Linked DNA regions of Homo sapiens. The protein of the gene in region 1 interacts with the protein of each later gene in a pairwise test. Each region holds a gene or a part of one and is shown on either strand. Other genes may lie near its edges.

Region 1 (2,880 bases):
ATACTGACAGGGAGATGGGACATTCTGAGGGACCCGGAGGCAGGGTGCCACCTCCTCAACTTCCCTGAGGGCTGCCTAGAATCTGTTTCCTCTCACTCTGAATTATTCTTCCTCTTATGGCTGACCAAAAACATGGAACCTCACAAAGTCCACTGTAACAGCTTTATATTTGTGAAGTGAAGAACATGAAGACAGTTTCAAGCAAAGTTATTGAGTGGACACTTTGTGTTTTTTTTGAGAAGTCTCACTCTTTCACCCAGGCTGGAGTGCAGTGGCACGATCTCGGCTCACTGCAACTCCACCTCCCGGGTTCACGCCATTCTCTTGCCTCAGCCTCCTGAGTAGCTGGGACCACAAGCGCCCACCACGTCAGCTTAATTTTTTTGTTTTGTTTCTTGAGACAGAGTCTTGCTCTCTTGCCCAGGTTGGAGTGCCGTGTCGCAATCTCAGCTCACTGCAACTTCTACCTCCTGGATTCAAGCACTTCTCCTTGCCTCAGCCACCTCTTTAGCTGGGATTACAGGTGCGTGCCACCACACCCAGCTAATTTTTGTATTTTTAGCAGAGACCAGGTTTCACCATGTTGGTCAGGCTGGTCTCAAACTCCTGACCTCGTGATCCACCCACCTCGGCCTCCCAAAGTGCTGGAATTACAGGCGTGAGCCACTGCACCTGGCCTGTATTCTTTTCTTTAGTAGAGACGGGGTTTTACTGTATTTGCCAGGATGGTCTCGATCTCCAGACCTCGTGATCCGCCCGCCTTAGCCTCCCAAAGTGCTGGGATTATAGGCGTGAGCCAACACGCCCTGGCCACTTCTTGTCTTTGCAACATTTTTTAGATATGTATTTGTGTTTTTTGGGGAGCTTAATTTGCTAATGGAATCTCTGTTATTTTCCTAACATGCTTGGTGGATACAAGAGTTAAGACTTCCTGTCCCGTTTAGTGTAACAAAAGAAAGTTAAGAAATGTGGATAAAAGATTGTAAGTTAGAAATGGCAAGATAATCAGCTATATGAAGAATCTTGGCCAGGTGTGGTGGCTGAGGCCTGTAATCCCACCACTTTGGGAGGCTGAGGTGGGCGGATCACAAGGTCAGGAGTTCAAGACCACCCTGGCCAATATTGTGAATTCCTGTCTCTACTAAAAATACAAAAATTAGTCGGGCATGGTGGCGGGTGCCTGTAGTCCCAGCTACTCGGGAGGCTGAGGCCAGAAAATCGGTTGAACCTGGGAGGTGGAAGGTGCACTGAGCCAATATCACACCAGTGCACTCCAACCTGGTGACAGAGAGACACATCATCTCAAAAAAAAAAAAAAAACTCAATCCATAAATGTTATACTTTATAACTTTATAACAGCATGTTATATGGGCTTAGATATTATCCCTAAATTTTTTTTTTTTTTTTTTTTTTTGAGACAGAGTCTCACTCTGTCACCCAGGCTGAAGTGCAATGGCATGGTCTCGGCTCACTGCAACCTCCGCCTCCCAGGTTCAAGTGATTCTCTTGCCTCAGCCTCCCGAGTAGCTGGGCCTATAGGTTCCCTCCACCACGCCCAGCTAATTTTTGTATTTTTAGTAGAGATGGGCTTTCACTACGTTAGCCAGGCTGGTCTCAAACTCCTGACCTCATGATCCACCCCCCTCGGCCTCCTAAAGTGCTGGGATTACAGGCATCTGCCACCGCACTCGGCTTATCCCTAGAAATCCTATGATAGCATGATGTATAGGCACCTAAAGGCATGGCACTTGAGAAATGTGAATAAGATTGTAAGTTACAAATAGCAAGGTACAGTCAGATGTTAACAGTCTCAGCCCCTAAATGTCACCTTGTATTACAGCATGTTATATAAGCACATACAGGCACATACATGAAATAGTGATACTTCATTCTCAGTAATATCTTCATCCTTCTCACTGGAAAGATCTTTGATGATTTTTAATCAACATAGGAGTTTCAATGATATCTAGAAGTTTAAAAGGGCTCGTTCAAACAAATTATGACCACACACACTGAAGAGTATGTTTGTCTCTTGTGGTGTAAATTTTTTTTTATTACACCAAATTATGTTCACACAAAACCTTTGTAATCAGGGGGAATTAAAGAGCCTTCCTGGAAAATGGAGGTTGCAATCAGCCGAGATGGTGCCATCGCACTCTAGCCTGGGGAATAGAGTGAGATCCTGCCTCAAAAAAAACAAAAAAATTCTTTATTTTCTCCATAAACTACAGTTTATATAAGCAAAAGTTTCAGTACTAAGCAATTTTAGTCTCTGCAGTCTCTTGTCTTGAATTAATACAACTTTTGTTAATTCTCTTATGAAGTTAATCTTCCTGCTTGTATGTGAATTAAATATATGTCAAACTTTTTTTGTACAAAAGATTCATACCTCTTTCCTGTTTGAAATTATTTTACTGTGTTTCATCAATCTAATGTTTATTTTTATTACACCAGTAATTTCCTCATTGTGTTGAATCTTACAGTGGCTTATAAATCTACATGTACCTAGAAATGTTTAGCCAGTCCATGTATATTTGATGTGGCACATTTTTTCCTTTGAATCACATACTCTAAGAGAAGTAACTTCCTCTTGCTAACCTCTACTTTCCCTAAGTGTTGAATTAATCCTCTTTAGATGATTATAATTCTCTTTTCAATAGCTAGAAAGAATCTATAAGGAACTTTCCTGGCTGGGTGTGGTGGCTCATGCCTGTAATCCCAGCACTTCAGGAGGCCGAGGTGGGTGGATCACGAGGTCAGGAGTTCCAGACCAGCCTGACCAACATGGTTAAACCATGTCTTTACTAAAAATGCAAAAATTAGCACCTGTAATCCCAGCTACTCAGGAGGCTGAGGCATAGAATTGCTTGAACCTGGCAG
Region 2 (3,500 bases), on another chromosome or scaffold:
TACTAGGTAGGTGCTAAGTAGATAAATGAATGAATTCGTGAGGGAGGGAATGAGCAAATGAGTCTGTAACTTAGACCCTTGCAACCTTCAGGCATTTTTCCAAGATGCTGTTATCTAATGTGGCTGTCATTGTCCTATGCCTGCTCAATTCCAGCCCTGTCAGCCGCCAAAGCAGATGGACAGCACACATTCTAGGGAGCTCTTTGTAAATGACAAGCCTAAGAGAACTGAAAGAACAGCTTCTATGGGGATGGGGCCAGGATTAGTCTACTGCCTGGTTTCTAAATGCCACATTTTAAAATCCTACTCTCCCACCCTCCCCCAGCCTCTCTGCAAATTCCACAGGGCCAAAGTGCAATCATAGTCTAAAATGAAGAAGAAAACAAAAGCATCACCTTTTCCACCATAGGGCTCATGGGGAGCTGTGTTCCTATTTCCCCTTAAGGCCAGAGCCCCCTAACACCTCTGCAAAGCCCAGTCTATCTTATATCTACCTGAATAAGGAGCCTAATCTCTAATTTCTCATCACCAATGAAAGAGGGGAAGCCAGAAAAGCAGATAGTGAGCCAAGAGGAGTAATCAGTGTGGCCACTTCTGGTCTCCCATTCTTCCTGCTGACACCCTGCAATCATACCCAGCCCAGCCCTAGACCAGCACAGTGACATCTCCCCAACCCCTGACAGTCTCCTCACCTGGGATTCTGAGCTGTGAGGACCATAGAAAAGAGGGATACAGGAGTGGGGCTGAAGATAATGCATTAGCCTTGAGTCCTGCTATAAATCCAACATAAACTCTTGTTCACGGATGGATAGCTGGGTGACAGATGGGTGTGTGGGTGAATGAACAAGAGGAGATAGAAAGTTGAATGAGTGAGTGAGGAATGTAAGAGTAAGTGAGTCAGAGGGATGGAATGGGCTGTTCTGTCCTAGTGCTGATGACATCTTTGAAAGGATGGCTCACTGGACTTAGTAAGACCCACTTTCTGTATTCTCCTTTAAGCATATGTCTAGTGCAGTGTTAGAGGTAGGAAGGAGGTTGACAGCTCCTGACAAATGTGAATCATTTGTTCCAAGGAGTCTTCCATAGAATTGTAAAGATATTTTATACAAGTCCCCAAGGAGCCAAGTCAGGACCACCTGGGAACCCCTTCTATCTCCTGTATGGTCTACAAACCAGAGATAAGGATAGATAGAGAAGCCACAGCTCAGGGATGCCACTTGTGACTTAGCCATCTCCTCCAGGGACCTTCTTAGAATCATCCGGGAATTAGATGTACCTGTCACCAGCCTCCCAAAAGCTCCTTAGTGACATCTTAATTTGTACAGAAGATGGTAAGGTCTCTGAGGGACAGACATGGTTGGCAGGCACCCCAAATGCCAGGTGTCCCAAAATGAATGATCATTTTCCTCCTCAAATCTACTTCTCTTCTCATTTTTATTCCACTGAATGGTTCCATCATCTATCTGGTTACTCAGATGATAAATCTTCATTCATTCATTTGTTCAACATATATTTGTGGCATGTGTCAGTAACATGGTACCATGATACCTGCTAGGATAAAGTAACGAGCAAAACCAGACATGGTTCCAACACTCACAGAGCTCATCATCATATAGAGAAAGTAAGCATTAATGATTACATAAATAAATGTAAAATTGAAACTATGATAAAGGCTTGAAGGAGGCACATGTTTTAAAACTTTATAAAATGGGGTTGGACCTGGTCCTGAAGATTATGAAAGTGACAACTCAGCTGAGAACTGAGAGTAAAGCAGGAATTCGGTAGGTGGAGTCAGGAAGAACGAGCATTCTAAGCAGAGGAACAGCAAATACAAAGATTTATGGTGGGAGGGAGCCTAACAAGCCCTAGAGACTGAGACTCAGCTGAGGCCAGTGTGGCAGGGAGAGCCAGGGAGGGAGTGCTGGGTAGGGAGATGTAGGAGAGGGCAGCAGGGCCAGGCAAGCAAGACCTTGTAGGACTTATTAAGGAGTGTGGTCTTTATCTTAAGATCAATAGGAGGCAACTAATGTACTTTTAAGGAAGAAAATGATATGAACAGAGTTGTGTTTTGAAATGCGCTCTGGCTGCTGTGTGGAGAACAAATTGGAGGGGAGCCAGTGTGGATATAAGGGTACCAGGGGGCTCTTGTGGTACCCCAGAAATGTGAAGATGGTACCATGAACTAGGATGATGCTGGTGGAGATGGAAAGAAGTGAAAGATTTGAGAGATATTTACAAGCTAATATCAACAAGATATGGGGACGGATTGGATATGGGTTTTGAGGGAGAGAGGTGTTGAGGATGACTGCCAGGTCTGTCTGCCTTGTGCAGCTACCCAGACGAAGGAGTCATTCAACGAAATCTAAAATACCTGAAGAGGACCAGGTTTCAGTAGGATGAAGAACTACAGAAATTCTGTTTTGGACACATTGAGTTTGAGAGGCCTTTGAGGCATCAAACTGGGAGTCACTTAGACTCCTTCATCTCCCTCACTTTCTGCATTCACCGGTCACTGTGTCCTATTGATTCTACCTCCTCTTCATTCGAACTTAGTTCAGGCCCTGGTAATTACTGTATGAATAATTAAAACAATCTCCAGGCTCTTTCTTCTTCCAATCCATTCACCCACCTCATGCTGTCTGTCTAAATATTGCCTCCTGAAAGAGGCCATTTCTAACCACCCAATCTAAAGTATTCCTACCCCATTACTCTCTATCACAGTCTTTGGGGTTTTTTCTTCTAAAAACATGTAACAATGTATTGTATTGGTTGATTGGAGAAATAAATATACATATATGTCCTAACTCTGTTTGCTAAGAGAGCATATAAACGATGACACACCAATCACAAGGAGCACAGGTAGCCTTTAAATCTTGGTTTCTAAATACCATTTTCGACTAAAAGGATCCAGGGCTCTTCAGACAAATGGCTAATTCCAGGGCTGTAGCAAAGTAAGGAAACTAAGCCTGTAACTTCTTGCTATAGTAAATAGTAAGGAAGAGCACAGAGAATCATGGAGATGCATCAAAAACAAAGAAAGCCAGCTTGCAGAGCCTCCCACTAATCAAGTTTGGGACAATGTGAACATTGAGATAAAATAAAGATAATAATTGACTATAACCCATTGAATAAATGAAGAATTCATGAGACCCTAGTGATAGGAAGGGAGGGAGTGGGGAAAAGATTTTTTTAAAGTAGAATGCCAACTACTAAATACGGAAGAAATAATTGATTCAAAATGATCAACGATGATAAAATCAGTGGGTATAAGTTTGATAAGGAACAGGTTATACACAGTCTCAAAGTATCTCACTACAAATTACTTATTAATTCCAGAGAGAAAAAATAATAATTTTGCAGTGGAGAAACTGGCAGACATTATTCTTAAGCAAGTGATAAAAGCTCCCATCACCAGCACTGGGACAATCCCCACATCATGTGCTTGCTGATATGAAAACTGGAGAGGACATAACCTCACTGCAGTTGTATTCCTGCCCCTA

The links. Proteins that work in one complex are often made in the same cells at the same time.
Region 2: the proteins of ZNF587 (region 1) and INSC interact in binary tests that used the Homo sapiens proteins (3 or more experiments, as listed by UniProt).

Annotation. Positions count from the first base shown.
Region 1 is NC_000019.10:57,862,738-57,865,617, forward strand, and holds the end of ZNF587 (zinc finger protein 587), read left to right. Parts: 3' UTR 1-2,380; downstream 2,381-2,880. UniProt on the Homo sapiens protein: May be involved in transcriptional regulation.
Region 2 is NC_000011.10:15,121,423-15,124,922, reverse strand, and holds part of INSC (protein inscuteable homolog), read right to left. Parts: intron 1-3,500. UniProt on the Homo sapiens protein: May function as an adapter linking the Par3 complex to the GPSM1/GPSM2 complex. Involved in spindle orientation during mitosis. May regulate cell proliferation and differentiation in the developing nervous system.